Linked DNA regions of Homo sapiens. The protein of the gene in region 1 purifies or fractionates together with the protein of each later gene. This does not show direct contact. Each region holds a gene or a part of one and is shown in the gene's direction. Other genes may lie near its edges. The genes, in order: HEATR5B, PTPN3, RAB43 and MLF1.

Region 1 (7,967 bases):
CAGCCTCTCAAAGTGCTGGGATTACAGGCGTGAGCTTCCACGCCTGGCCAAGTTTTCTCATAACTCTGTCACTTACTCACCTGACAACAGTTAATATTTCGGCACTACCTCTATGATCATCTTTGTTATTATGATATTAGAACATAATCAGTGACCTCTAAGAATGGCTGTTTTAGTAGAAATGATGAAGGCTGGTGCCAGATCATAGGAAAATAAGGAAAGCACGAAGTTGAAGAAATCAGATATAGTAAGTTTAGACTTACTATGTTTCTAGGATGTTGGCAATAATAAAGAACAAAGTTGTATAGCAGCTAGAAGAGACAATATGATGTAATAAAGGAAAAGGAGTAAATTTCCTTGGAAGAAGGCAATAAAAAGGATCAAGGGCAAAAGTAAAATGGTTAGCATTAAAAGGAGGAAGTAGATTCTAGTATCTTTCTATGGTGACATAGGAGGTATTTCCATAAAGCAAGAAGACTGACTTTCCCACTGCACATTTAAAATCACTGTCAGGCTGGGCACGGTGGTTCATGCCTGTAATCCTAGCACTTTGGGAGGCCAAAGCCGGAGGATCGCCTGAGCCCAGGAGTTGGAGACCAGCCTTGGCAACACAGTGAGACCTTGTCTCTCCAAATAATAAAAAAGAAGAGTTAGCCGGGCATGATGGTGCAGGCCTGCAGTCCCAACTACTCGGGAGGCCAAGATGGGAGGATCTCCTGAGCCTGGAGAGTTTGAGGCTGCAGTGAGCTAAGATTGTGCCACTGCACTCCAGCCTTGCTAACAGAATGAGACCCTGTCTCAAAAAAATAAAATAAAATAAAATAAAATCAATGTCATTTCTTAATCTACACATCTTATACATATCATTGCACTGGGTGTGCACATTTACTTACTGGACATTAATGAAGGAATCAGACATATAGTCCTCTTCTTCTGCCATGTTCAACTTCATATGGCTATAGTATCTACAAATAAAGTAATAATTACTTTTTTTTTTAGTTTATCAGAATGGAAATAAACCTTTCTGTATCTGCAGCCATGAGCTGTCTCTAGAGCTCTACTATATATTCAAGTGCCCTTTGGACATCTTTATCTGTGGACATTTCAAACTCAACAATCTAAACAACTCATTTCTTTCCCCTTTCCCCAGCCTTCTACATCCCCTGTGTTTCCATGTTGATGTCATCATTATCTCCTTCTTCCTGACCTCTTATGAAGCTGTCAAGTCTTCCTCCATAAAACTCCTCACAGACGTTTTCTCTACAGTTGTGACCACTGCTTTAGTTCAGGCACTTTTTTTTTCTCACCTGAACTATTACAACAGCTTCTTAATCAGCTTCTTAGTTGGTCTCCTCTTCCAGTCCATTCTCTGCACCCCATCCAGAGGTTTTTTGTTTATTTGCTTGTTTGTTTTTAAATACAAGTCAGGTCACGTTACTAGCCTGTTTCAAATCCTTCATTAAACCTGACCCTGTAGGCAGTGGGGGACCAGTCACTTTTGCAAAGCATGAGATGTTGTCCTTCATAATCTGACACAACTGTCCCTAAGGATTCATTATTCAAGCCCCATGGCTCCTCACTGCCCTCTGAACAGAGTACAAACATTTCTTCCCTGTAGGCCAAGGCTACCCTCCCTTCAGAAACCTCTCCTGACCACTCCAGGCCTTTCTCTACAGCACTTTATGTCCAAGCTGCTCATTTGGAAGTTGATATAGTTAACAACTCACTTATGTGGAAATATTTTGAGGGACAGTTTCTATCCAAAATAGTTAAAATCATGTAATTATTGGCCCTTAAAGGGTTAAAGTAATTTTCTACAAAAGTACTTCTCAAACTTTATTGTGTATACAAATTGCACTGAGATCTTCTTAAAATGCAGAATCTGATTCTGGGGCTGGAACCTGAGGTTCTGCATTTCTAGCAGGTTCACAGGCAATGTCAATGTTGCTAGTTCAGTTGCTTAAGACAAAAGTGTATTCACTTGTTGTGGTGCATATGTACTGTTTTTTCCTGCCTACCATCTTTTCCTTTGGGAATCCAACCCTCTGCCCTTCATGTGGTTTTAGTGGAGGGTGGCAATGTCAGTATCCCATATTTCCTTGGGCACAAAGATGGTCAATTATAGTACTCTATGTCCAGCACCAGGGGACGAGATGACCCAGCCAGAGAAATAACCATCTTTTTCCTTACATTATATGAATATATGGGTTGTGGGGGAAAGAAGGTCTTTTATGGGTGTTTCTGAACTGGGAGAATGTGAAGCTGGGCTGTGGATGGCCATCTTCTTGGCCCCATGAAGGGATCTTGTCTGAAGAATGAAGCCAGATAGAGAAAATGAGCCTAGTTTCCAAGGCTGCGGATTCTTTGAAGCTGCGACTTAGCATTCTACCCCATTACATAGACTAATACATTTCTGCATTACTTAAGCTTGCTGAAGTAGGGTTTCTGTCAACTGCAACCAAGTGTCTAGACAATTACACTGGATGAAAAAAGGATTACTATACTAATTTTTAATGGTTTTCTTTTTTGTTTTTTGAGACAGAATCTCGTTCTATCACCCAGGCTGGAGTGCAGTGGTGTGATCTCAGCTGACTGCAACCTACACCTGCCGAGTTCAAGCAATTCTCATGCCTCAGCCTCCCGAGTAGCTGGGATTACAGGCATCCACCACCACACCCAGCTAATTTTTGTGTTTTTAATAGAGACAGGGTTTTGCCATGTTGGCCAGGCTGGTCTCAAACTCCTGGCCTCAAGTGATCCACCTGCCTCACTCGGTCTCCCAAAGTGCTGGGATTACAGGCGTGAGCCACCACACCTGGCCTGGTTTTTTATATTTTTAATGTATATCTTCTCAACTAGATAATGTATATCTTGTGTTAAACACAAAGACAAGTCCCCTATATCCTCCCTACCTACCACTGCATCCCAAACACAAATGCTTAATAATTGTTTAGCAACAATGAGGATAAAAAGGGTCTTTAATATTTGTAATTTTATAACTTTTTCCTATGTCAACAAGTCATTTTTAAACACTTTTTAAATACGTACAGAAAACACATAAAACAAATGTACAGCTTAATACATTTCTGTGAGTCAAACATTCTTGTAACCATGTGGTACCCTCCAAAATGACTCCCAGTCATTCTTGCTGTGTGGTTTTCTACATCCTTAGTGTAGTCTCCTTCCACAGTGAACAGGATTAACCTGTGTAACCAACAGGATTTTGTGGAGATGATGGAGTTGATTTTTTGGTCATAACTGCAGCTCTTAGGTCATTCTAACTTTGAAGTTAGATGACTCACTTGAAGGAAGTCAGTGGTCACATAATAAGGATACTCAAGAAGCTCTATGGAGAAGGTCACACGATTGGAACTGAGTCCTCCTATTAAAAGCCAGCACAAACTCATGAGCCACAGGAGTGAGCTACCTTGGAAATGGATTCTCTTGCTCCAGTCAGGCCTTCAAATGACTCAGCCTGGGCTGGCATCTTCACTGCAACTTCTTAAGAAAGTCCATGCTAAACTAAGCTAAGCTGCTAACAAATTCCTGACCCATAGAAACTGTGAGATAACAAATGATTACAGTTATCTTAAGCTGCTACATTTGGGGATAATTTGTTATGTAGCAAAAGTTATCAGGAAGTAGAACCTTATCAGGCACCTGGGAGCCCTCTTTGTCCCCTATCCAGTTGCAACTCTCTTTTGGTTCTAAGAATAGTCACTATTCTGTTTTTTATGGCAATCATTTCCTTCATTTTCTCGATAGTTTTGTCATCCACGTGTGCATCTTTAAACATTACAGTTTAGTTTACCTATTTTTATTATAAGTTAAAAACGTGCACTATTATATACAGCATTTATGGTAATTCACCCGCTTCCTCTAAACCTCAGATTCTTCATTGGTAATAACAGCATTTTTACACATAATGGTTTAACACTTACCCAGTATATCACACATTTTTATCACATTTAACCACCACTAACAACTCTACAAGGTAGGAAGAGTTTTTCCTGTTGGAGAAATTAAGGTTCAGTATGGCTAAATGACTATTTCAAAACCACAAAGAATCCGGGTCATAGTGCCTTGCAAATAGGATTACATTGTTTTTAAGAGACCTACTTAACTTTAAAGTGCCAGGCACATCTGAATGGGGTTACAGGTTGCTTTTAAAGCTCTCTTTCTATTGGTAAAATATACTTTAGCATTATCCATTTCCATCAAAGATAAGCATAAACTTCACAAGGCGATACCCTGGCAGAGATGATGGAGGCTCGTACCAGAGTGATAGCAATGCAAGTGGTCGCATTTGGGGTACACTTGAAGGTAGAGCTTACAGGATTTGCTGATGTTGTAGGTAGTACGTAAAGAACGATGTCAAGATAACGCTAAGTTTTTGGCCTGAATACATGGAAGAACGGAGTTAACGTTTTTTGAGAGTGGGAAGACTGTAGGAGTAGGTTTGTTTTTGTTTTTTTAGGGGGCGTAGTCGGGAAACAGACATATTGAGAGTCCCATTACATATACAAGTGGAGAAATGGACCTACAGTATAAATGTGACAAGAAACGTCCCACTCTCAATACTACGCTCAGGAACCGCTGATCCCTTCCCTCACGCGTTCCTCCTGGCTGCAAGCGTCCCACAGACGCAACCACCCACGGATGGAAAAGTGGCTGACGGTGTGATACGGTAGTCATGGCCAGCGCACTCTGCCTTTTATCATTCTACCGGTTGTCCCCAGACCCTTACCTGACAGCTCTCTTACCTGACAGCTCTCTGCTCGCCCCGGTTCAGCGCCGTAGAGCGCGCGCTGCGCATGCGCCCACCGACCAGCGTCGGACTTCCGGACCTCGGCTCCCACCAGTTTCCTAGTGCAGACTCTATTGGAAATTCGCGGCGGGTGGGGATAGGAGGACGTGGTGACTGCGCTTGCGCAAGACCAGCCCTCCGCGCAAGCGCTCTTCCCTTGTTTCCTGCAGGTAGGAGTGCGGGAGGTGGGGCATCCGGGTCTCTTGGTGGCTGCTTCTACCCCCGGAGCTCAGCTGATCTTCCCTTCCAGACTACGAGGTGAGGTCGCCGAAGCATGCATGTTGACACGCACGGACTCCTGTCCGACGTACATTTTCAGACGGGTGGGGAAGACATTTGAGTTCGTAATGAACATTTTCCCTTTTCTGGCTCCGTGCTTAGTTCCGAGCTGCCGCCTCGTGCTATTGACAGCCTGCGGAACCCCACGGAGGCTTGCGGCGGCCTCTTGGTGTTTCCCCGGGTCCGCCGCTTGCGGTTCTTGGAGTAGCCAGGTGAAGCCAGACCCCGAGCGCGCGAGGCTTCTCGGGTGCATTCCGGACCGCCTGGTGTTGTCACTGACGCTTCGGCCGCCGGGCCTGGCCGCCCCACCCATCCGCGTAGGAAGAGTCTTGGAGACCTGCAGTTCGGGATGTCTGTGCTGGGTGTTTTGACCTCAGTCCCTCTGGCCAGGTGCAGCGCGGGAGGGTAAAGGTGCTATGTACCGAACCCTGGACGAGAAAAAGAGGAGGATGGTTGTCAAGCCCGGCTGGGGTGTTTGATCTTAGTGCTTCAGTTTTTTCATTTATAGAACGGGTAAATGACATATGTGTTGCTGGACATATTTCTTCTGGAATAATGCCTTTTTTGGCAATAATTTCTTTTAATTTTCTTTTCACTCCATGAGTCACTCTTCCTTACCAAGTAGTTTTCTTCTGTTTTTGTTTGTATTTTTGTCATTTAAAAGTATGTTCTCAGGTTTTGCCTCAAAGAAGTTGAGTTTTTCCCCAAATGAAATGAGTAGTCCTACTTTTCTTAGTGAGTATATTCCATTAAGCTTGACTTTTAACATTAAAAAATACTTACAAGTATTTTTTACTCTGTTAAATTTAAGGTGTGAATTTCAAACTTCCGTAATGGAGTTAGCCCACAGTTTATTGCTAAATGAAGAAGCTTTGGCTCAAATCACCGAAGCAAAAAGACCAGTTTTCATCTTTGAATGGTTGCGATTTCTTGATAAAGTCTTGGTTGCTGCCAACAAGGTATGGTATTGCTCTTTTTTCCCAGTTGCATTAACGTGAAGAGATTATGTGGTCATGATTCTTAAGAAAACACATGTTATGTTTTGGAAGGTTTATGGGTCACTTATGGAACTTGAGAGTATTACACGAATGGGAAATTTAGTGGCAAAACTCAAACCTCGTTTAAATCCAGCTCATTGCCTATCTTCTTTATGTTTGTACCTGGGCAGCTCATTGTAACTGGAGAAAAACATGGCTATATGACTGGTGTCACTTTAAATTTATCATCGTCACCCGTTGCAAGTGATCTCTCTATGCTGCCTAACAATCCCAGTGTCTTCACTTATCTCTTTGAGGAGTCAATAATAGGCTCTTTTTTTTTTTTAATCTGTTTTTTCTTCCTGCATAGCCTTGATTTGCCGAGACCAGCTCGTTTGGGGAGACCCTAACCTAGCGGCGCTAGAGGAATTAAAGACACACACAGAAATATAGAGGTGTAAAGTGGGAAATCAGGGGTCTCACAGGCTTCAGAGCTGAGACCCCGGAACAGAGATTTACTCAAGTGTCTATTAACAGCAAGCCAGCCATTAACATTGTTTCTACAGATATTCGATTAGCTAAAAGTATCCCTTATGGGAAACGAAGGGGTATGCTGAAACAAAGGGGTGGGTCTGGCTAGTTCTGTGCAGCAGGAACATGCCCTTAAGGCGCAGATCGCTCATGGTATTGTTTGTGGTTTAAGAGCGCCTTTAAGCGGTTTTCAGGCCAGGTGTTCCTTGCCCTCATTCGGGTTTCGTTATGGCCATCATGAACATGTCACAGTGCTGCAGAGATTTTATTTATGGCCAGTTTTGGAGCCAGTTCCCAACATTGATTCAACTTACTTTTTATTGTCTGTGTATTTTATATTCTGTCTTTAAAAGTAGATATGGCCCGGCATGGTGGTTCACGCCTGTAATCCCAGCACGTTGGGAAGCTGAGGTGGGTGGATCACCTGAGGTCAGGAGTTCCAGACTAGCCTGGCCAACATGGTGAAACCCCGTTTCTACTAAACACTGCTAAAAGTACGAAAATTAGCCAGGCGTGGTCGTGGGCGCCTGTAATCCCAGCTACTGGGGAGGCTGAGGCAGGAGAATCGCTTGAGCCGGAAAGGCAGAGGTTGCAAGGAGCCGAGATCGCACTAATGCACTCCAGCCCGGGGGACAAGAGTGAAACTCCATCTGAAAAAAAAAAAAAAAAAAAAAAAAAAAAAAAAAAGTAGATACTTCCCTCAAATGTCTGATGATCTTTGGCTGCCTGATCAAATTTAAAAGTGAGTAGTAAAAACTTTTCTCAGCAGGGCCAGTCTTTTAAACTGGACTTCACTGTAGGCTAGTTTGGTCCCTGACCTTAGTATTTTAGGTTTCTGTAGGCTAGTCATTCCCCAGAAGATACTTTTCTACTGTCGTGTCTGAAGAGTATATAGCTAGCTGGCTACATTCTTGGAGTTGTGGGAGAAGACTGGGGACTTTAAAGTTCAGTATGTGAACTTTCACTGCATCTCCCCATTTTCAGTGCAGTTTTCCCAGACCGCAACTGTGCCTGGACTCTTCTAGTCTGGACATACAATATTTCACTCTTCCCAGAGAATAAACTTTCAGTCTGCTTCCATAATGAAGAAGAGGATTCTTTCTGCTTATTAGACTCTCAACCATTCCCTCTATCTCAAGGTACATACAACTTCACTCCCACCTCCAAAAGCACCTAGGGCTTAAAAAAACCGTGATCTCTTAGGGGGTCCTGTGTTGTAAGTTAGGTCATTTTGCAGCTTTCCCTGTTGGGAACAGTTGGTTTCCAAATACTGTGTTGATTCTTTCTCCTGTTTTCTTTACCCTTTGGATTTGTGCTTTGTTGTTATTGTTCCTGTTGTTGTTGCTACCCTTTAGTATGGTTTTAATGGAATT
Region 2 (7,845 bases), on another chromosome or scaffold:
AGTAGTCATTTTCCCTCTCTTTACATCATTTTCTTTAGCTTGCCAACTTTTGAATTTGTTTCATTTTTCCAGATTATGAAAGAAACATACATAAGATTTAGAGAACTATAAAGACATACAAAAAATAGACACCCAAAGACTTGAAATTCTCCTAATTTGTAAAAGATAACTTCTGTAGCCTGCCTCTCTGCACATAAATGCAATAGTCAGACACACCACCAATAATATTTTGGTGCAGTTTTTCTAGTTTTTGTTCTATGTGTATGCATTAAATTGAAATACAGGAAGTTACCGATGTTCAACCATTTTGACCCATAAAATGGCAATTTCATATTTATTTATTTGAGACAGAGTCTTGCTGTTGTCCAGGTTGGAGTGCAGTGGCACAACTAGGACTCACTGCAGCCTCAACCGCCCTGACTCAAGTGATCCTCCCACCTCAGTCTCCCAAGTAGCTGGGACCACACATGGGTGCCACCACATCCAGCTAATTTTTTTCTTATTTGTAGAGACAGGGTCTCACTACATTGCCCAGACTGGTCTCAAACTCCTGTCCTCAAGCAATCCTCCCACCTCAGCCTCGCACAGTGCAGGGATTACAGGTGGGAGCCACTGCACCCTGCCTGGCAATTTATAGTTCAACCTACTGAATTCCCACATACCATACCATGTGTATTTTACATCATATTCTTTTCATGTCATTCTAACAGCACCACTTGCCCATGTATTTATGGATTCTCGGGCTCTTCATAAGCTTGCATTAACAGCACAAATAATTGATGAGCATTAGCATCTCAGCTCAGAGCACTGCTTTGTAAATCACTGGAGCAGTACAAGTAGGGCAGACTTCCCAAGTCTTGATGCGAATGACAATCCTCAGTGATTCTTCCAGGAAACTCTTCCTATAAATTCCCTTAACCAATTGCCTGCATACAGTGCCTGGCACCTGATTTTCTGCCCCAATGGCAGCTTCTGGGAATGCTGCTAATAACTATGTTTAGATGTTCATCTCTTGTTCCTCTTTTACGAATCTGGTCCATTACCTGTGATGTATATTCAGTTTGTAGCGTATCTTACTCTCCAATAAAATGATGCTCTTTTGTTTTCTTTGTTGTTATTGTTTTTCACGGTTTCTGGATCTTTCAGCCAGGTACAGTCTACTGGCACTAAGAGAGAGAGGTGACTATATTTTTGAGCTTCGCAGGAGGAGGGCTGCTCTTACGGTCCTGGCTTTCTCTCAGCAAACATCATCAGGACTATCAGCTCTCTGTCATTTCATCACAGAAAAGTCCCTGAGGAGTCCATGGACCAGGTGGTTCCATCATGTTGTGATCCTGCCTCCAAAGTGAATGCCCAGAGACGATAATCTATGTGGGTCCTCTCTGGACCAGTCGATCTGGGACTGAGTACAGCTCTATTCCCAATTGGGCTTTAATTTGCTCTACACTTGGCTGAGTTCAACAATAGCCTAAGAAGATTATGTGCCCATTCAAAAGCCCCATTTACGTAAGGTTTGGGAGCTTATGATATAAGATCAACTGTCATTGGTAATAATAACCTTATGTCACTCCAGATGCAACAGCTTAAAAGGATAGACTTTAACATTTTGGCCCCAAGAATAAAACAGTAACAGGAGACTAGAACATTTAAAGGTAATCTGTAGCCTACAAACACATCAAAGGGTAGAGAAAATAAGGCAAAAAACCCTACAAAATTAGATGACATATAGCTTCTCTTATCATCAATACATGGTAATCTACTACACAGAGAGGCAGTGTGTCCTAAAACCTAACACCCTGACTTTGAGATCAGATTGACTTGTGTTCAAATCCTCACCCCCTTAACAGCTGTGAACAGCCCCTAGATTGTTTTCTCTTCTGTAAAACTGAGCTAAAACACCCACTCTGTAGAGTGATGGTAAGGATTAAAGAGAGAATATATATAAAATATTCATCGTACTTGAGCTTGATAATAGCAGTTACTGTAACTGGATATACACAAAACAAGAATTTTTAATTTGATCTTTTAAATGCTTATTATTGCAAACATGTCATTGTGACATTAATAAACTTTTAAAAAACACCCAAACTTACTACTCCAAAAAAATGACTAGTTAATTTTCCCATATTTCCTTCCAGTCTTGGTGAATGTGTCAACACCATGTTTATACAATCTATTTGTGTTTTTAGCTTTTTTTTTTTTTTTTATTTGAGACAGAATCTCGCTCTGTCATACAGGCTGAAGTACAAATGGTGCCATCACAACTCACTGCAGCCTTGACCTTCCTGGCTCAAGAGATCCTCCCACCTCAGCCTCCCATGTAGCTGAGGCCACAGGTGCATGCCACCACACCTGGATAAGTTTTTTTTTGTAAAGATGGGGTCTTGCTATGTTGCCCAGGCTGGTCCTGAACTCTTGGGCTTAAGCTACCTTCTCACCTGGATCTCCCAAAGTGCTGGGATTACAGGCATGAGCCACCTCACCCGACCTGTTTTCTGCGGTTTTTTTTTTTTTCATTTAACATTGTACCGTGTTTTCCCTGTTGCAACATGGTCTTTTTAACTTAGTGTAAGATAGTTATTATTTCAACTAATATACCATAACCTAATTAATCATCCCTCTGTTATTGAGTACTTAGTTTGTTTCCAATTTGGGGAGTATTCTTTCATTTTGTTCCTGCTTCTGTTATGGTGATTTAAAACGCATGATTTTTAAAATATTTAGGTCTTTCCTTTAGGTGTAAGCATGTTCCTAGCTCAAAGTTGAGGGCATCGTTTAAGCTAACAGCTGTTAGCTGTGGGAAAAGAAAAGGTAATTTCAGTCTAGGGGTCAGCAGATTAAGACAACTTCGAAAATTCACACATCCTCCGTTGACCTCGGTTTCCTCATCTCAGCAGTTGGCAAACTGGCATGAGGATGACGGCTGATTTTGGTAGGCACTCAAGAAATGGATCTTTAAGGTGGTCTAAACACGTTCACGTTCCTTATTTCACTCAACTTCCACTCGGGTGCCCAGATCGAAGCGTAGGTATTCACAATGGTTGAAGCACAGAGAGGATAAGGCAGTGGGGAAAGGACAGAGAATGCCTCCTGCTGAGCCCGGGGGCGCTGGGTGGAGCTCTGCGGGGGGCGTCGCCTGCCCCTCCAGGGGGCTCCTCCTTCCGGGGGCTCCGGCCCCGCCCGGCTCCGAGCATGCCCAGTGCGCTCCCCGCCCGTCCGAGTGGTGCTGAGCGGGCGCCGCGGCTCCAGGTTTTGCTGGCGACTCGAGGCCGGGCCGGGCCGGGCGGGGCGCGGGCGGTCCTGCCCCTGGACTCCGGGCTCCGTCGGAAATCCCCCCGACGCGATGCACGGGCGGCACCCGCTGCAGCGGCGCTATCCCGGGACGTGCGACTCCGGGACAAGGACCGAAATGAGGTTCCAGGGGCTGCCGAGGCCTCAGTCTATCCCTGGAACGACTGCCCCCAGGACCTGGCACCCAGGCCCGACTGGAGGGTTCCAACCATCTCTGCATCCCTTCGTTCACATATTCAACAAATAATGTTTGAGCGCCTAGTGTGTGCCAGACAGTGTTGCAGGGGGGTCACTGCAGTAAAGACAAGCAGAGCTACAGCCCCAAAGCTGACATTTAGGAGGGAAATACAACATGAGAATTAAACAAATCGGAGGAAAAGCCAAAGTGACCAACCTCATCTGCTCCTCTGCCTCCTTGCCGTTCCCTAAGCGGTCCGGCGCTCTTTTGGGTCTTGGCACTGGCTGTTCCCTCGGCCAGGAATGCTCTTCCCTGCTTATCTGCGTGGCTGAAATACCACTATCACCTTCTCAGTGTCACCCAATCAGACCGTCCATCAGCTCAAGGGCCCTATCCGACCGCTTCACTGAAAATTCACTGCTTACCTCCAGCCCCAAATCTCCTGACCCTGCTCTTTTTCCTCTTAGAACTTATCACTTTCTAATATAATGCATAGTTTGCTAATTTGCTGTTTATCTGTTACCTGTCCCTCTTTCCCCAAACTCCACTGGGGGACAGAATTTTTGTCTATTTGTTCCCCACGCGAGAAAAACCAGAATAGGTGCTCAATAAATATTTGCTGAAAATGGATAAATCACTGTTAAATGCTATGAAGAAAACAGAGTACACGGAGTGGTCAGGAGCAGAGGGCTAATCGAGGAAGGTGGTCAGGAAAGGCCTCTCTGAGGAGGGGACCTATGTACAATGAGAAGGCGCCGGCCACGTGAAAAGCTGGGCAAGAACGTCCCACAGAGGGAAAGGCGGGCGCCAATGTCCTGAGGTTAGTGAAGTTCGAGTGTTTGATGGACAGAAAGGCGCTCTAGGATCCGCAGGAAGGCAGGTGTGAGATGAGACGGAGGTGGGAAGCAGGAGCACAGATCAGGTAGGGGTCCCACGAGCCTTGGGGAGGTTTAACCAGGGAAGCTTACTAGTGCCAAGGGACGAGCACTGGACTGGAAGTCAGCGGGACCTCAGCTCAACCGCGCACCCGTCGTGCAAGACTCCTCATTTCAAAGTTTCTTTGGGCGCCGACTTCTTGCCTTCCCTAGGCATGAAATCACTGAGGGCCTGGCACACAGTAGGTGCCCAGTCATGGCTGTGGAACGAATGGCTGCATGCATGCGCGAGGGAACTCAGGACCTGCCCGGAGCTCGGCGGAGAGCCCCGGTGCCCCTAGGAGATGCGTCGGGGCGCGCCAGCCCGGGGCGGGGGCGGGAGAACACCGCAGGCCAGCCCGGACGCCCGCCCCCCGCCCGGCGCGCGGGCCCGTCGCGGCCAGCCCGGCCGGCGGGAACCGCCCGCGGGCGGCACTGGGCATGCTCAGACGGCGGCCAGGTCGCGCCGCGAGCGAGCTTCCGCGCCGCCCGCACGCGCGACCTACCTGGGCGCTCCGCGCCCCCGGATGCTGCAGGTACGGGCCCGTGCGACCCCAGCGGGCCGGGGGCAGGGTGCGGGGCTGCCGGGGGCCGGGGTCGCGCTCGGCGCCACCCCGCCCCCACCCGTCCCTGGGGCGCGCGGCGGACGCGCGGGCGGGCTGGCGGGTGCGGCTGCACCGGGATCCCCGCACCACGTCGGGGCGGGGAGGGGGCGCCCCGCTGCGCTCACCTGGCGGGGCCGGGGCGGGAGGGCGCGGGCGGGGCGCCGGGTGGGGCTCGGCCGGGGCGGGCTGGCGGCCGGGACGCGGCGCCGGAGCGTGGGCGTGCGCTCCAGCCGGGCAGGGGCGGGCGCAACCCGCGGAGCCCGTGCGTCCGGCACCTCCGGAGGACCCCGTGCCGCCGCGACCCCGGCTCGGGGCTCCGAGGGGGCACACAGCCCGCGGGGAGCTAGCCGAGAGCGGCTGCCAGCGCTCGGCTCCCAGGGCGAATCCGCCTCTCGGCTTTCAAAGATGGCATTTCCTGGGCCTGGCACGAAACTCCAGAGCCAATAAATCCTCCCCGTTCCGCGGACGATATGGAATGATTTATCAGGTACCTGCGGTGAGACAGCTGCAGATGGGGGAGTGTATGTGAGAGTGCCCAGCCCCCCCGAAATTCCCATTTTCAGCTACCTAAACTTACTGAGAAGTTGCGGTTGCCTTAAAAATTCATGGGAAGTTGAGACAACTTGACACCTGGGTTTTCCAAGCTGGTGGAAAGAGCTTGTGACTTGGAAACTGGAGACCTCCGTTCAAGTTGGGCTCCCCCTTGGCCAGCTGGTGACCTTGGCAAGTTGTTTAACCTCTCTGGTCCTCAGTTTCCTCCCTTGCAATCAGCTGGTAATAATGCCCACCTCGCTGGGTTGTTGAGTGGATTAAGTGGGATAAATTATGTGGAGGTGTTTGGCACCGTGCCCGGCACAAAGCTAGCAAGCAGTTGGCGTGATGTGAATTTAATTCGTTTAGAGACCCTCGTGGCTCTCATTTCAGGAGGAAATTAGAATTAGGAAACCATCTTCAGGGCCTAGTGGTGGAGTGACAGACCCTGTCTCTGTGCCCAGGAGAACTTCTGCCGAAGTCAAGGCCTTCGGAAAAACAATTTAGCCGAATTGTAATCAGAGAGCATCTCCTTTAAAAGCAGTTTTATACATTCAGAAACTCCAGAAGTTGGCAGTTGGCTTCACTTACAAAAGAGCTGTTTTGCAAGATGATCCATCTTGCAAATGTTTAAGCAGATGATGGGAGAAAGTAAAGCCTGCTTAGGAAGATTTCTGTTTTAAAAAGCTCCCAAATCCAACTTTAAGCGATTATTTAGATCAGGGTTTCTCAGCCTTGCACTATTGACATTTAGGGTTTGATAATTCTTTGTGTCCTGGGCATTGTAGGGTTTAGAAGCATCCCTGGTCTGTAGATTCCAGTAGCAATTCCTGTTCCCCAGTTGTTCCAATCAAAAATGCCTCCAGTATTGTCAGATGTCCCCTAGGGAGCAAAATGCCACCCCAGCACCCCTTTAGAACCACCAATTTAATTCTTGCTTTCTGTCATTAGCCCGAGTTGTTTGAGAATTTCATCTTGTGCTTTTGTAATAACTAACCTTTGCATAGCCTTATAGAACTTACAGAGTACATTCACCTGTATCGTCTTATTTAATCTTTACAACTCCCTTGTGAGACTGGTGTCACTCCCATTTTACAGATGAGGACATGGAGGCTCTGAGCAGCCAATTACACAGTATGTGGTAGAGCTGGGGTGTAACCCAAGTCTCCTGGTTCCAAGGGCAGGTCTTTTTCTTCTGCATCAAGCTGCCTGTCCCTTTGTTGTATGGAGGCTTTGATATGGATGACTTTCCGGATGATTAAATCAAGATGTGAAGTATATTGGAAGTTGGAAACTTTTCTGAGATTGACTAGTTGAAAATTAACAACAGTAAGCTATTATCTGACAGAGTAGGCCATTCTAGTTAAATATTCTAGTTTATAGCGAGCTCCCATAAATCCCACATGCAGTTAATGGAATACCAATTTGCAGAGAATTAGAGTAGAATAGAACGTGCCTAATACTCTGTATTGATCCTGCGTTTTCTCTGGTGATTTGCCATCTCCTAAAAAGGACTCATATATGCAAATTAGACATTAGCTGGGGAATATAAAAGGTCAAGTTACTGAAGGCATTTCAGAGTAGCTGAGGCATTTATTGAACTTCTGTATGGCAGATGTAGTGCTGAGTGGGGATGTGGGGTGCACCCCAGAGAATCCAGGTTGCCTGCATCCACTTCCGTGCAGGAAAGGGCAGGCCCTGGTCAGGCCAGACAGGTGGTGGGCCCTCAGACAGCTTGGAGCAGGAGAAAAAGCCCAAGTTACCATGGAAGCAGATTCAGGATCCCTTACCATATCATCAGTCATGTCTCTGACCCCTCGATTCATCTTTTATCATACAGAAGATACTCTGGTAGTTTTAAGCATTCTCATTCAAGTCTCAGAGACCTGGTTAGGGAGGCAAGGTCAGAGACAAATCTTATCCCTGGAAAAAGCTGGGGTTCCGAGGTGGTAATTGGCTTCAGAGAATTGAGAGCAACGCTTTGTTGGCTGTGAACTGGAAGGTTTCACACACAGTGGGGTTTGTTGCTGCCAAACCCCACCCCATTCCCCACCTTGCAGATAAGGAAACTGAGCTGGCAAAGGTAGAGTGGGGCCAGGAGCAAGAGGGACCAATTTTGACCTTCTGAACTACAGGTCCAGGCACACAAGAGACATTTTCTAGGACAGGCATAACCTACCAGAAGGGCTCAGCTTTGGGGATGGGAGGGAGTGAGAAGACATGGCACCCTGCCTTTCCCCAACCCTCCGGGTTTGTGGTGGTTGAGAAAAGACCAGCAATTTGTGGTCCCTACATCTTTTCCCAGGAGAGCTCACCTTCCAGCATT
Region 3 (7,017 bases), on another chromosome or scaffold:
ACATTCCAAAAACGACAGCCTCATATATTTTCTCCAGTCCTGTGGTGTGTGTGGAGGGAGGGCTACTCTGCCACCAGCGATGCTGCCATGGCTGGAAGCTGCTCCAGGAGCCCTCTGACCGGCTCCAAGTTGGCTGATGTCTAGGCTGCTGCTCAGGTATTATCCTGGGATTTATCTCTCTTTCCATCATCCTGGCATCTCCCTTTGCCTCCCTTTTCAGTTGAACTCTCTGTTTTCTGGATCCCACATTTTCTTATTTTTTGTTGATTTCTTTAGGTAGAGGAACTTTCAGTCACTCCCTGAGGAAGGGTAGCAGGAAGGTGAATTTTTCGAGGACTGTATGTCTGGGAGTGCCTTTATTAAACCCTCACACTTGACTACTGGTTGGTTGGGTAGAGAATTCTAGGTTGGAAATAATTTTTCTCCTCATTTTAAGGCATTGTTTTGTTGGCTGTCTAATGCCACATGGGTCTTTTGTGTTCTTTCTTCTTGCCTGTTGTTCTGGAACTTCTGCCCATGGATGCAGTGTGGTCTGCTCTGCTCCATTGTGTGTGTGCCTGGTGGGCCCCTCAGTCAATTCTGGATACTTTTCTTGAAATACTTGATTTCCTCTCCTTGATTGTATTGTTCTCTTTTTCTGAAACTCTGATTATCCTGCTCTCCTAGGCTGCTTCTTAATTTTCTTTTCTTTTCTTTTCTTTTTTTTTGAGACAGTCTCACTCACTCTGTCGTCCAGGCTGGAGTGCAGTGGCGTGATCTCGGCTCACTGGAACCTCTGCCTCCCAGGTTCAAGCGATTCTCCTGCCTCAGCCTTCCCAGTAGCTGGGATTACAGGCGTGCACCACCACACCTGGTTAATTTTTGTATTTTTAGTAGAGATGGGGTTTCACCATGTTGGCCAGCCTGGTCTCGAACTCTTGATCTCAGGTGATCCTTCTGCCTTGGCCTCCCAAAGTACTGGAATTACAGGCTTGAGCCACCGCACCTGGCTTTCAATTTTATTTTCTCTCTTTTCCATTTCTTTGTATTTTTTCTCTACTTTGGAGGGATTTCTTCAACTTTATCTTCCAACCCTGATGTTGCATTTTTCATGTATGTTAATCATATTTTTAATTGAGCTCTTTTTTCTTTCTGAATGCGCCTCACCAAAAAAGATACTATTCTTTCCTTGTTCCATGAATCTTTCCCTATTTCTGAAACATTGACGATTGTTTGAGTACTTTGCCTCTGTGTTGTTTCTTCTGTGTTGTGTTTTTGCTGTTGTTTGGCCGGTGTCTTTCGTGTTATGTGTGGAGACGAGTTATCTCCACACCAGAGGTTATCTGGATCCCAGGCTTGTGTGGTACACACATAAACCTTGCACTTCACCCCATGCTGCCATGCATGAGCTGCAAGACGCATGAACTATGGAACATAGGCCTGGTTTTCTTAGAGCCACTCACTGAGGAGTAAATGGGACAACTCAGGAAAGAGGAGTCTTATTTGGCACATTGTGGCCCAGAGCTTTCACTCTCAGACTTCTGTGTTGGGGCTGGGGCAATGGTGGTCACCTCCACAGTGCCAGGGGCAGAGGCCCTGCCTTCAGGAACTGTCTGGGCCTCTGTGGCTTTTCCCCACCCCAGACAGACCTTGAGAGAAAGACCTTTCTCACATACCTTGAGAACTAGGTAAAGAGACACCCCGAGTGTTTGTGCCTGCAAAGGGGGCTGATGGACCTGCAGCTTGGCACACGCCACAAGCTGGGTGTCAGTCTTCAGAGAGCCATGAGAACCTGTGATTGGTGGGGCAGAGAAGGCACACCCGATCCCCAAGGTGTTTGGTCACCAAGATCCCTGGCATATGCCCCTTGGCTGGTGATCTCTGCCCAGAGTGGGCAGCCTCCTGGCCCCGCACAGACCTCTGCCCCTACCTGGCCTGGTATCCATCCTGCCAGACTCTGCTTCTAAAAGACACTAGGGAAGCTCCTCCCACCCATGGGCACCTCTTCTCCACAGCCCACATCTGGTGGGAGATGGGGCAGAGTAGGTGTTAAATGAAGACATGGGTGGCCAAAGCTCCTTGCTTTGGCCAAGCTGGGTCAGCTGGTGGAAACTGCCTTGTACTTAAAGGCCCCATGGGAGGACTCTGCCCATTGCCACCACCAGTCACCCTTCCCACAGTCCTCATCACCAAGCTGTAGAGTCCTGAGGGAACCCTAATGCTGGAGGAGCCTCACACACAGCTGGGTACGTGATGCTCTTGTAGGGGAGGGTACCTGGCCGTGCCTACTGCTGGCCGTGCAGTGCACCTGGAGCCAGCTTTCCAGCCGCCGGCCGCTTGAGCACTGGTGGTTCTGTTTTCGCAGCAGTGGGCCCAGTCCTGAGGGGAGAGGGGCACACGGAGGGGCACGCGGAGGACCTGGGTCAGCTCAGAGTGTACCCCTTCCTCCATCTTTCCCTGGGGACCCTAGAGGGCCAGGACAGGGGCTGCTCACCTTCCCTTTGCTTCCCCATTTTTCCAACAAGGTTGAGCCATTGAGTTGCTTTCTAAGGACTCAGAAGGCCTCCTAGCCCAGTGGAACCACAGCTCTGGGTGTGGGTCTGTGGGGTCACTCTGCCTGTCCCCATGTTCAGCCTGTGCCACTGGGTTCACTGAGGAACCTTATTTCTTTAGCTGCAGATCTGGGACACGGCCGGCCAGGAGCGGTTCCGCACCATCACCCAGAGCTACTACCGCAGTGCCAATGGGGCCATCCTTGCCTACGACATCACCAAGAGGAGCTCCTTCCTGTCGGTGCCTCACTGGATTGAGGATGTGAGGAAGTATGCGGGCTCCAACATTGTGCAGCTGCTGATCGGTGAGTTGGGGATTCCTCGGGACCACAAATCCCATCACTCTGCCTGTCCATGCCTCCCTCTGCTTTTTAAACACAGTGTAACCCTGAGTTCAGAGGGAGTCCCAGCCAGAGTTTGAGCCATGGTTTTGCAAATCCTGATCCTGCTAATCACTTAGAAAGTTACATTCAAGGCCGGGCACGGTGGCTCACGCCTGTAGTCCCAGCACTTTGGGAGGCTGAGGCGGGCGGATCACAAGGTCAGGAGATCGAGATCATCCTGGCTAACACAGTGAAACCTCGTCTCTACTAAAAAAATAAAAAAAAATTAGCCGGTTGTGGTGGCAGGCGCCTGTAGTCCCAGCTGCTGGGGAGGCTGAGGCAGGAGAATGGCATGAACCTGGGAGGCGGAGCTTGCAGTGAGCTGAGATCACGCCACTGCACTCCAACCTGGGTGACAGAGCAAGATTCGTCTCAAAAAAAAAAAAAAAAAAAAAAAAAAAAGAAAGTTATATTCAAAATTGGAATTAGAGGAAAGAAGAAAGAGAGCTGAAGTTTGCTCTGCTGTTCTTCACATGTGTCAAGATTTAGCTCTTGTACCCCGGCTTCTCCTCATTTGACAGGGGCTGGGGCTAGGCTCAGAAAAGTGCAGTGATTTATCCGGGTCCACATGGCCTGTGAGCATACACATGTAGGCTTTGAGTTTGCTTCTGCTGACCTCAAGTCTGTGGCTTTCTCTGTTGTGCCGCACACAGAGCAGGGACACTTGATGGCTTCCGTGCCTCAGAATCCCACAGAAGTCTTCTTCAAGTGCAGCTGCAGGGCCTCAACCTCCAGAGCATCTGATCCAGGCGGGCTGGGTGGGGCCCATGAATGTGCGTTTCTAACAAATTCCCAAGTGACACCCACCTTGCTGGTCCAAGGATCCCACTTTGAGAACTGCTGCTGTGGAAGGATGCTGTTTACCTTTGTTTTCCTTCTATATAACCTTCCCAGACCTGGACTGGAGAAGCTCTTTAGCTCTTATGTTATCCCTGGGGTCCTCACCCCAACAGGTTGATTCTTTTTTTTGAGACAGAGTCTTACTCAGTCACCCAGGCTGGAGTGCCGTGGCGTGATCTTGGTTCTGCAAGATCTGCAAAACCACTGCAACCTCTGTCTCCCTGGTTCAAGCGATTCTCCTGCTTCAGCCTCCCGAGTAGCTGGGCCAACAGGTTGATTCTTCTGACTCAAATGTACAGACAGGGCCTGGACCTGACTCCAGCCAGGAAGAGGGTGGTGCCTGGTTCCATGTGGCCTGCCTTCCACAGCCTGTTCAGACTAGGACATGGAGTGCTTGGCATGAACAGAGCTTTCCTCACGTAGCCTAACCATTTCCCCACCTTTTCTTGCTGGGGGTGGGGGACGGAGTCTCGCTCTGTCGCCAGGCTGGAGTGCAGTGGCACGATCTTGGCTTACTGCAACCTCCGCCTCCCGGGTTCAAGCAATTCTCCTGCCTCAGCCTCCTGAGTAGCTGGGACTACAGGCACGCACCACCACACCTGGCTAACTTTTGTATTTTTAGTAGAGACTGGGTTTCACCATGTTGGCCAGGATGGTCTCGATCTCCTGACCTCGTGATCCACCCGTCTCGACCTCTAAAAGTGCTGGGATTACAGGTGTGAGCCACCACACCCAGCCACCAATTCCCATTTATCCAGGACATTTCTGAAAAACATTCCAGCCTGGCATGGTGGCTCACACCTGTAATCCTAACACTGAGAGGCTGAGGTGGGTGGATTGCCTGAGTTCAGGAGTTCAAGACCAGCCTGGGCAACATGGTGAAACCCCATCTCTACTAAAAATACAAAAATTAGCCAGGCATGGTGGCACACACCTGTAATCCCAGCTACTGCGGAGGCCAAGGTAGGAGAATCGCTTGAACCTGGGAGGCGGAGATTGTAGTGAGCCGAGATCGTGCCACTGTCCTCCAGCCTATGCGACAGAGTAAGACTCTGTCTTCCAAAAAATAATTAATTAAAAAACATTCTATTATAGAACTTTTTTTTTTTTTTGAGACAGAGTCTCACCCTGTCGCCCAGACTGGAGTGCAGTGGCGCGATCTCGGCTCATGGCAAGCTCTGCCTCCTGGGTTCACACCATTCTCCTGCCTCAGCCTCCCGAGTAGCTGGGACCACAGGCGCCCGCCACCATGCCTGGCTAATTTTTTGTATTTTTAGTAGAGACGGGGTTTCACCATGTTAGCCAGGATGGTCTCGATTTCCTGACCTCGTGATCCACCCGCCTCAGCCTCCCAAAGTGCTGGGATTACAGGCGTGAGCCACCGCGCCCGGCCTATAGAACATTTTATACAGCTATGAAAATAGTATTTTATCTATTTATTTATGCATACTTATATACATACATATATTTTTAGAGATGCAGTCCTGCTATGTTGCCCAGGCTGATCTTGAACTCCTGGCCTCAAGCAATCCTCCTGCCTCAACCTCCAAGTAGTTGGAATTACAGGTGTGAGCCACTATATCTGGCTTAGAATAGTATAATAATGAGCCCCCAGGTACCCATTACCCTGCTTCAGCAATTAGCAACTGAAGTCCAACCTCCTCTCATCTGTACCATGTCACCTCCCCTCCCTCGGATTATTGAGACAAATTCACATCAAACCATTTCACCTGGCAGTATTCCAGCATGAACCTACAAAATATTTAAACACTTAAAAACAGCAATATTATTTTCTCATCTAAAAATACTGACATTTCCTTAATAATATAAAATAGCCAGTCTGTATTCAGATTTATAATTGCCCATAAAATTCATATGTGTTTTATTTTTTCCAGTTTGTTGAGATCAGGATCCAAATAAGTTTCACACTTTGAAACTGGTTGCTACATCAATTAAGGTTACCAAGGAAATTTTAGATCTTTACAGACTTTTTTTTTTTTTTTTTTTTTATGACGGAGTTTCGCTCTTGTTGCCCAGGCTGGAGTACAGTGGCACAATCTCGGCTCACTGCAACCTCCGCTTGCCACTCCTGCCTCAGGCACCCGAGTAGCTGGGATTACAGGCCCCCGCCACCACGCCTAGCTAATTTTTTGTATTTTTTTTAAGTAGAGACGGGGTTTCATCATGTTGGCCAGGCTGGTCTTGAACTTCCAACCTCAGGTGATCCACCCACCTCGGCCTTCCCAAATGCTGGGATTACAAGCATGAGCCACTGCGCTTGGCCCAGACTCTTTTTTTTTTTGTCTTCCTTATAACCACATTACAAAAGTCAACCATGTAGAGACTTTTAAAAAATTATTCTAGAAATTGGGTCAAGGAGCAATTTAACAGATTGTTTGGAATGTAATGAAGTCATCTCATACCATCTAGGAGGATCTGGGTAAATTGAGACGGGGTCTCACTGTGTTGCCCAGGCTGGTCTTGAATTCCTGGGCTCAAGCAGTCTTCCTGCCTTAGCTTCCCAAAGTGTTGGGATTACAGGCGTGAGCCACTGCACCCGGCCTAAAAAAGGTTTTTTAAAGAAAGACAGATGACCATGCCAGGGGTGTCCATTTATAGTGGTGGAAGGGAGTGGCATGGGGCTGTCAGCGTGACCCTCCCAGGTGGGACTGGGCTTGCCCAGCCCCCATGGCCTCATGCTGCCCCGGCTTTCCTCCGCAGGGAACAAGTCAGACCTCAGCGAGCTTCGGGAGGTCTCCTTGGCTGAGGCACAGAGCCTGGCTGAGCACTATGACATCCTGTGTGCCATTGAGACGTCTGCCAAGGACTCGAGCAACGTGGAGGAGGCCTTCCTGAGGGTGGCCACGGAGCTCATCATGCGGCACGGGGGCCCCTTGTTCAGCGAGAAGAGCCCCGACCACATCCAGCTGAACAGCAAGGACATCGGAGAAGGCTGGGGCTGCGGGTGCTGACCAGGGGCCGGGCCGGCAGACTGGGGGTTCCCCACCTCCTTGCTCTCCCCAGCCTGCCAAGCCCAGCCCTCCAGAGCCAGCCCTCCTGGGTACCGGCAACTACAGCAGCCGGGTGAAGCTCTGGAGCTCTGCATCCTGTGGCCTGGCTGCGGGATGGAGGCTCTCCTTGAGGAAGGGGAAGCAGGATACCCTGGCGGGCCACCCTGCCAGCCAGCAGCTGGCCCTCCACCATCTTCACATTCCAAGACTGGCCTGAACCCGCCGGTGTGGGCCACAGTAGGAGGGGCCAGC
Region 4 (7,911 bases), on another chromosome or scaffold:
TTCGCTGGAGGAAATATTTGCTCTAGAGAGTGTATTTCTTAAAAGGAGAGGACTGCTATTGGTATTTAGGGAAGGACGATTCATTGTGCCAGACCGTGCCACACATAGTGAGATGTTTAGTACCCTTGGCCCTACCCAGTGAGGGCAATAAAGATGACTTCAGGAATGCAGCATGGCTAGCAACCAACTACACCTTGGCATTGTCTCCGTGGAAGAGGAAATGGGAGTGACTCCCAGTGGAATGTAAGCCCAGAAGATAAATTAAGGTTGATTGCAGGAAAATAAAATTACATTTCTTGCACATGAGTTTGGGAGTTTGGGGATGAAGCTTGGCACTCAATTAACTCCTATGTAGCGGAAAGAATTCAAGATTAGGAACAGCGCTGCCATGGACATGTATACAACACCTAAGCGAGCACCAGTCAAATCATATACATTACAGCCTTGTCTATTTATTAAGACAAATTTCTCATTAATGGAAGTATCATGAGAGGGAGGCACTTTTTCTAATTTGAGCAAAGATGCCATTATGGACTAGAGGCAGCCCTACTGGGAGTTTGAAGACCTTGGGATCTATGCTCTTACAGGTCACTTAATCGGTATGCACCATTTTCCCATCTTTCAAAAAGATATAAAGCAAAACTGTTAGAGGACTGGTAAGTCAGCTGACTGTAAAGAAGATAAACATGAAAAATAAAATGAAACATATTTTTTAGAAAAGGAATGCATGATATTTTACATTTCTTTTTAATTTGAAGAAAGATTGTGGGATTAGACAGAGGTCCCCAAACTATCTTAGTTCATGAGCCCTTAGTTCCTCAGTAATTTTTTCATTGTGCCCCCTAGGTTTAAAGAAATACTGAATAGGTCCGTTATTGTATAATTTAGATACAAACAGCGTATTTCTGACCTAAAAACTCAGTACCTTTAAAAAATAATGCACATAAATTGAAAGAAACATATTTTTGTATAATTCTTAAATAATCATACTAACAGATGGGTGCCCGCCTAGCACAGCACAATTTTTCAAACTTTAGAAACAGACTGAATGTTGCCACCAATCTTTCCTGTTCCACATTGACAGGTACTTCATTTTCATCATAGTAACTTTCAGAAACCTACCTTTCCAATGATATGACATCATCTAAAACAATGTAGTGCAATCTAATATTGAAATATGTGAACTGCCCTAAACTAGTACATTGAACAATGTCTAACACATGCCAAGTTTCTCTCAAAATTTGTCCCATAGCCCCTTGTGAGTTTGCTATGGCATCTCATTCTCAGAGGACCTCTGTGCACTGTTTAAGACAAAGGGATTAGGACAACGAAACCCTAGACACATTGAGCTTAATTGTGGTAAAGGTGTTTGTAATGGCCTAATATTCACGGCTCTGGAAAGCTATAATTAAGTTAAAAGTTCAGCACTCAAGAGCCTGTTTATTTTCTTTTGGGCACTTGAGATAATGTCTTCAGAAACATTATGAAAATTCTGAGGTGCTGTAACAGTATTTGTAAAATTAGCTGGGGAAAGAGTTGTCCACTAGGATGTAAGTTCCGAAAGGCCAGGGAGTTTTGTAACCTCAGTGTCTAGAATAATGTCTGGGATATTACTAGTCCTTAATAAGTATTTGATAAATTAATGAAAGAAACACGAAATCACTTACATATTGAAGTCTTGGTGTTTTTAATAGAGTTGCAGAGTTGGCTTGGGTTTCATCCTTTTCTCTGTTTTTCCTTAGTCAGTGTCCTTCCAAATGAAACCTAAGCAACAGTGTAGTTACAGATTATAGATGTAAAAGTGTTTACTGCAAATATTTGCTCCATAAATAGTTAATTTTTAAAATAGGGAGGCAAAGTACGGATGGTGGTGAGGATACAGGCTTTGGGGTAAGACAAATCTGGGTTTGAATTGAGTGACATCAAATTTCAATCATCAAAATTTAATCAAATTATCAACTTTCAAATCAATTATCAAAATTCAATTATCAAATTTATCTGGGTCCCAGCTTTTTTTAATGCAATTTAGGGATAAACATAATATTAGACATGGTTGCTGTAAAGGTTAAACGAGAAAACATATGTGAAGCACTTAGTGCAATCCTTGGAATATATGAAGTGTAAATGAGAGCTATTACCCTATTAGGCAATTTTCAGTTTACTTGGCTCATCTCATTCCTCACTCAGAAGGTGAGTTTTAAGGCATATGAGTAGGACTGTACATTATATACACCAGGCAAATGCTACTTTAGCACTGCCCTGGAATGCTTTTCCACTAGACATCCACTTCCTTCCTGTGGGTCTTTGCTCAAATTCCCCTTAGTGAGGCGTACACAAAACTTGCTATTTATAATTGCACCTCTCCATACTCCTTACCCTGATCAGCTTTTCTCCCTAACACTTATCACCTTACAATATACTATTTTCTATTTTGTTTATTTTGAGTCTGTCCTTACAAGAACATAAACTCCGGGAAGGCAGAGATTTTTGTCCGTTTTGTTCAATGATGCCTAAGGTCGTAGATCAGTCCCCAACACTGGGTAGTCACTCAATAAATATTTGTAGAATTGAATTTATGTGATGTGAATATATTCCCACTGAATTTTGTACTTTTTAGTTTGGGTCCATTTAGCTTGTCAGCATGATTTTGAAAAATGATTACCCGCTTTCATCCTGCATCTTTAAGTATGACTCATCACTCACATACCATATAACCAGCACTCACAGAGGAAAGCTCCAGGTACCCAGCTCAGTTCAATTACTAGCTGTGTGAACCTTGGCAATTTATTCAGCTTCTCTGTGTCTTGAATGCATCATCTATACATGGGGATAAAAGCCATCTCTACTCCATAAAACTGCTAATGAGGATTCAATGAGGTAATGCATATGGAGTGCCTACAACAGTGCCTGGCACACATTCAATAAATATTAGCTATTATGATTATATTTACAGCCAAGTCCAGGACCCTCTCCTCTCAGTCCTGTTCTGCATCTCTATTCCTCCCATGCTGGAGTATTCATTCTCTCCTGACCCACGCTTTCTTTCATTTCCACCTCTTACCCATCAGTTCTGAAAATGATGTCAAGGTCTCTTCAGTGCCAACTCTGCTCTGCCCTCCTTTTTTTTTTTTTTTGCATTTGTCATTAGATCCAAACTGCTTTCACAAGGTTCAGCTAATTCCCTGACTAACCTGTGCCTGGACTAAAGCTTTTATAACAATGTGATTCTAAAAAAGTTCCCACAGAAACTAGAGGGTAACATTACAAATTTACTTGGCCTTAATCCAGAACTATTTTAACACCATCTTTTATCACATAACTTACTCCATTTCAAGTTTTTTTTTAAGTGTGGCCTCCTTCACATCTTGTGCTTATACTATTTTAAAGAGAAAAACAATTTAAGGTCTTATAAAACAATTTTGTTTGCCTTGAAATTTATTTAGAAATTTTCGAAATTTTGTGTATATGTTCTCTGAGCTTTATTCTGAGTCCAGAGGAAAAGAAAATATCCTCTTTCCTGGATGGGCTGTGCCATCTCATCTTGGGCTGTGAAGTCTGCCCTACCCCATGCCACCAGTCTCAGGGGAAGGAAGCTGCCAGAGAACTTGGCTAAAAAAGGGGGATGGGGAGTAAAAGATCCAAACGATTAAATTTCCAGCTCTCAAAATAACCCCTGACTACTCCTGTCACCTCCAAATCAGGGCTTGCACACTTCTTCATGCTGGCAAAGTGCCACCCCTCTGGCCTGATCCCAGGGGGCCCTGATGAGCTATGGACGCCCCTTTATCTCTGCAAGACAGCCACGTAGAGAAGCTGGGGAGCTCACTGAATTAAGGGTGGACATGCAAGATGTATTTTCTCTTTTCTTATACTCTTACCATTCTTCTCCTTAATCTCTCTTCTGTCTTCCCCTCCATCTGTCTCCAGGCTCCTGAAAGGCCCCGTGATAGTGTTTTCTAAAACTTAGTAATTTGAGTACCACTATCACGATGTTCCTCTCCCCTGCTCTGCCTACCCCTCCGCCCCACCATATCCAAATTCCACCTGTTCTATTTGATAGCTTACTTTTTCACTTAAAAATGCAAAATCTAGCTCTTGATGTATATCACTGATTTAAATTTAAAATCAGTTTCCTTGCCATAAATAGAAAGCTCCCTGATAAATGTAATGCAAATAAAAACATATAGTAGTGGAATTTTAGTTGGATATGGCTGCTTGCTGCAGGCCTGTGCCTGAAACCTGCTGTTAGGTTAAGAAATGCTGGAGAAGTGTTAAAAACATATCAGCATCGCAGTGAGACTTGATCTTTGAAAGAGAGACACAGAAGGACAACCGAAAAGAGAGCAGCTTTCTCAAGAGGTAAATAAGTTTGTTGAAATCTGATAGGCTTCATCCCATTTCCTTCAACAACTGAGTACACTATTTGCTAACTGTACTAAAAAACGTTTTGCACATTTTTTCTTATTATTTGCTCACAGCTTTTGACTACCAGAGAATGTTTCGGATACAGGACTAATTCCTGTGGATGACAGAATGCGACCGTTGAATGGGACATTGGGTGTCATCTGGTCCAAATCTTGACCCCTTTTCATTTTCCCCGAAAGAAAGACTTGCGGCTCGGAACCGAGGGCGGCATGCCCAAGGTCACAGAAAGGGTGGTCTAATGTTTTGGTTCCTGCAGCCCAGAGAACAAGCTATCCCATCCCACAGGAGCCTTGGCGAAAAGCTCCCCGGCCGGCGCAAGGCCAGACTTCTCGCCTCCACTGTGTTGATTGCGGTTGCCAGGGCAGCGGCGCATTGCTCCCCGCCTCGTCCTGGTGACGTCACAGAGCAATGTCCAATGGGAAAGCAGCTCGGTGTCACGCACCTCCTATCCCGGCGGGCACCGCCTGCGCCGCGGCGAGTGAGGCGTCGTCCGTACTGGAGGCTAGCTCTTGTCGCGGCCGCGGCGAGTTAACATCGTTTTTCCAATCTGTCCGCGGCTGCCGCCACCCAAGACAGAGCCAGAATGTTCAGGATGCTGAACAGCAGTTTTGAGGATGACCCCTTCTTCTCGTGAGTTACGGGAGCCAGGAGTCCGGGGTCGCGCGGGAATTAAGGTATCGAGGGGAGCTATTTTAAGGGAAAAGAGCGAGTTTTAGAGGGCGAGAGAGAATTCGGAGTAACTCTGGAGGCGGTTTGAAGGAGACGAGGATTTGGAGGCCTGGGAGGGAAGAGAGAGGAGGATTTAGGGGTGTGTGAGACAGGGAAGAGACGGATTTGGGCGCATGAGGTGGAGAGAGGAGGGTTTGGACGCGTGAGGTAGGCGGAGGGAAGTTTGGGGGCGTGAGGTGTGGGGAGGAGAGTTAAGGCTGGGAGTGGGGGGAGAAGAGTTGAGGCCGGGAGGTGGGGGGAGGAGAATTGAGGGCATGAGGTGGGGAGAAGAGGTTGAGGGCGTGAGGTGAGGGAAGGGTTTGGGAGCATGAGGTGGGAGGGAGGAGGGTTGAGGGCGTGAGGTGAGGGGAAGGGTTGAGGGTGTGAGGTGAGGGGAAGGGTTGAGGGCGTGAGGTGAGGGGAAGGGTTGAGGGCGTGAGGTGAGGGGAAGGGTTGAGGGCGTGAGGTGGGGGAAGGGTTTGAAAGCGTGAGGTGGGGGGAGGAGGGTTGAGGCTGTGAGGTGGGGGGAGGGTTTGGGAGCGTGGGGTGGGAGGAGGAGGGTTTGGGGGAGTAAGGTGGAGGGGGGAGGGTTGAGGGTGTGAGATGGACGAAGGAGGATTTGGGGGTGTGAGGCGTTTGGAGGAGGGTTGAGGGCGTGAGGTGGGGGGAGGGTTTGGGAGCATGAGGTGTGGGGGAGAGTTGAAGGTGTGAGGTGTAGGAGGAGGGTTGAGGACGTGAGGTGGGAGGAGGATTTGGGAGCATGAGGTGTGGGGGAGGGTTGAGGGTGTGAGGTGAGGGGAAGGAGGGTTTTGGACCGCGAGGTGGGGGGAGGAGGGTTGAGGGCGTGAGGTGGGGGGACGGTTTGGGAGCATGAGGTGCAGGGGAGAGTTAAGAGCTTGAAGTGCAGGGACGAGGGTTGAGGGCGTGAGTTGGTGGGGAGGGTTTGGGAGTATGAAGTGCAGGGGAGGATTGAGGGCATGAGTTGGTGGGGATGGTTTGGGAGCGTGAGGTGGCGGTAAGAGGGTTGAGGGTGTGAGGTGGATGGAGGAGGATTTAGGGGCTGAGGAGGATTTGGGGGCATGAGGTGTGGGAGGAGGGTTGGGGAGAAGGGTTGAGGGCGTGAGTTGGTGGGAAGGGCTTGAGAGCATGATGTGGGAGGAGGGTTGAGGGCGTGAGGTAGGGGGAAGAGGTTTGAGGGTGAGAGGTAGTGGGACGAGGGAGGGTTGGGGCGTGAGGTGGAGGGAGGAGGGTTTGGGGGCATGAGGTGTGGGGAAGAGGGTTTAGGGGCATGAGGTGTGGGGGTAGGAGGGTTGAGGGTGTGAGGTGGACAGAGGAGAGTTGATGGCGTGCAGTGGGGGGAGGAGGGTTTGGGGGCGTGAGGTCGCAGGAGGATGGTTGAGGACGTGAGGTAGAGAGTTGAGGGCCCCAGGTAGGGGGAGGAGGATTTGGCTGCATGAGATGGAAAGAAGGCCCTTCCTCACACTCCCGGGGTGCCTGCTGCTTTCCATTTGGCCGGACTTTGGGTGCCCGTCATGGCTTCCTGTGTGCAGAGTTGGCCTTTGCAGCTTCAAGGGCTTTGCAGGTGACATAACTACCATCTCGGTGAAACTTATGGTGAGAATTATGTTCACATAATTGCAAATGGGAGCAGGGAATATTTTATAGCTCCTCTTTAAATTCCAAATAGGAACAGGTAATATTTTATAGCATGACAGTTCATTGAAAAGGGGAAGTTTTTAAAACAGCATTTTCCATGTGAGTGGGGAATGTGTCAATGAGAGCACGACAAAGTTGGAGAGTTGTGCTTTCTCTTCGAAGTTGTTGGAAGTTGCCATGCCAATTGCGCTGTTTTCTTTGCTCGCTTTGTTACAGAGCTAACCTTGTTTGTGAAGGGACTCCGCTTTCTGTCAAAACTAGAAATAGGACAGGGAAGCTGATGGGGCGGGGCGGGGGGAGGGGGGCGGGAGGAGGGCGGCGGGGGGGGGGGGGTGTGTATTTAACACCTCAGGTAAGCAAGTGCCATTCGTTGCCTTTGAAGGTTCCCAGTGAAGTAATGTGATGCCCTAGAAAGAAGGCATCCAGAAATTGGTTTCACTATTATTTATTTTTGAGTTGTGGGATTTTTTTTCCTTAATTCTAACTTTGGCCATTGTTACAAACACATTGACATAGTCTAGTTGTATCCCTAAGAGGGGAAATTTGTAATACTTTTTAGCCTAAGTGTTTTTTGCCAGTTTGAATTTTGATTTCAAGTCTAGTTTATTTTGATCCCTTAAATTTTCTAGGTTTGCAATTTGGAGAGCATTTTTTAAAAAGGTCTTAAAATAAGAGTTTATTGCACATATTTTTCAAACAATATCTGTGGGGGGTGTGTTGTGCGTCTGTGTTTGTTTGTTTGAGACAGGGTCTCACTGTGTTGCCCAGGCTAGAGTGCAGTGGGTTGCTCTCGGCTCACTGCAGCCTCTGCCTCCCAGGCTCAAGCGATCCTCCTGCCTCAGCTTCACAAGTAGCTGGGTCCACAGGAGGGAGCCACCACACCCTGCTAATTTTTTTTGTAGAGAGGAGGTTTCGCCGTGTTACCCAGACTGGTCTCAAACTCTTGAGCTTAAGTGATCTGCCTCCCTCGGCCTCCCAAAATGCTGGGATTACAGGCATGCGCCACTGCACCTAGCCAATGTTGTTGTTTAAATAAATGATTGACTTAAATATGTTAGTACTAATTTAAAGCAAAATAACATTAATAAAAAGATAATGAACAGTGGGAAATGAAATGGTTAA

Evidence for each region.
Region 2: the proteins of HEATR5B (region 1) and PTPN3 purify together in Homo sapiens (affinity purification with mass spectrometry; 2 studies listed by BioGRID and IntAct, with this or other methods). This does not show direct contact.
Region 3: the proteins of HEATR5B (region 1) and RAB43 purify together in Homo sapiens (affinity purification with mass spectrometry; 2 studies listed by BioGRID and IntAct, with this or other methods). This does not show direct contact.
Region 4: the proteins of HEATR5B (region 1) and MLF1 purify together in Homo sapiens (affinity purification with mass spectrometry; 3 studies listed by BioGRID and IntAct, with this or other methods). This does not show direct contact.

What each region holds. Positions count from the first base shown.
Region 1 is NC_000002.12:37,081,367-37,089,333, reverse strand, and holds the start of HEATR5B (HEAT repeat-containing protein 5B), read left to right. Parts: upstream 1-4,961; 5' UTR 4,962-5,065; intron 5,066-5,897; 5' UTR 5,898-5,919; coding exon 5,920-6,045; intron 6,046-7,578; exon of another isoform or gene 7,579-7,733; intron 7,734-7,967. Other genes in the region: GPATCH11 (G patch domain-containing protein 11), read right to left, coding at 894-952.
Region 2 is NC_000009.12:109,495,293-109,503,137, reverse strand, and holds the start of PTPN3 (tyrosine-protein phosphatase non-receptor type 3), read left to right. Parts: upstream 1-4,830; 5' UTR 4,831-4,919; intron 4,920-5,201; exon of another isoform or gene 5,202-5,475; intron 5,476-7,845.
Region 3 is NC_000003.12:129,090,805-129,097,821, reverse strand, and holds part of RAB43 (ras-related protein Rab-43), read left to right. Parts: intron 1-2,652; coding exon 2,653-2,836; intron 2,837-5,228; coding exon of another isoform or gene 5,229-5,308; exon of another isoform or gene 5,309-5,322; intron 5,323-6,475; coding exon 6,476-6,726; 3' UTR 6,727-7,017. Other genes in the region: ISY1-RAB43 protein, read left to right, coding at 2,653-2,797. UniProt on the Homo sapiens protein: The small GTPases Rab are key regulators of intracellular membrane trafficking, from the formation of transport vesicles to their fusion with membranes.
Region 4 is NC_000003.12:158,566,293-158,574,203, forward strand, and holds the start of MLF1 (myeloid leukemia factor 1), read left to right. Parts: upstream 1-4,901; 5' UTR 4,902-5,008; coding exon 5,009-5,055; coding exon of another isoform or gene 5,056-5,099; exon of another isoform or gene 5,100-5,301; intron 5,302-6,683; coding exon of another isoform or gene 6,684-6,747; intron 6,748-7,911. UniProt on the Homo sapiens protein: Involved in lineage commitment of primary hemopoietic progenitors by restricting erythroid formation and enhancing myeloid formation.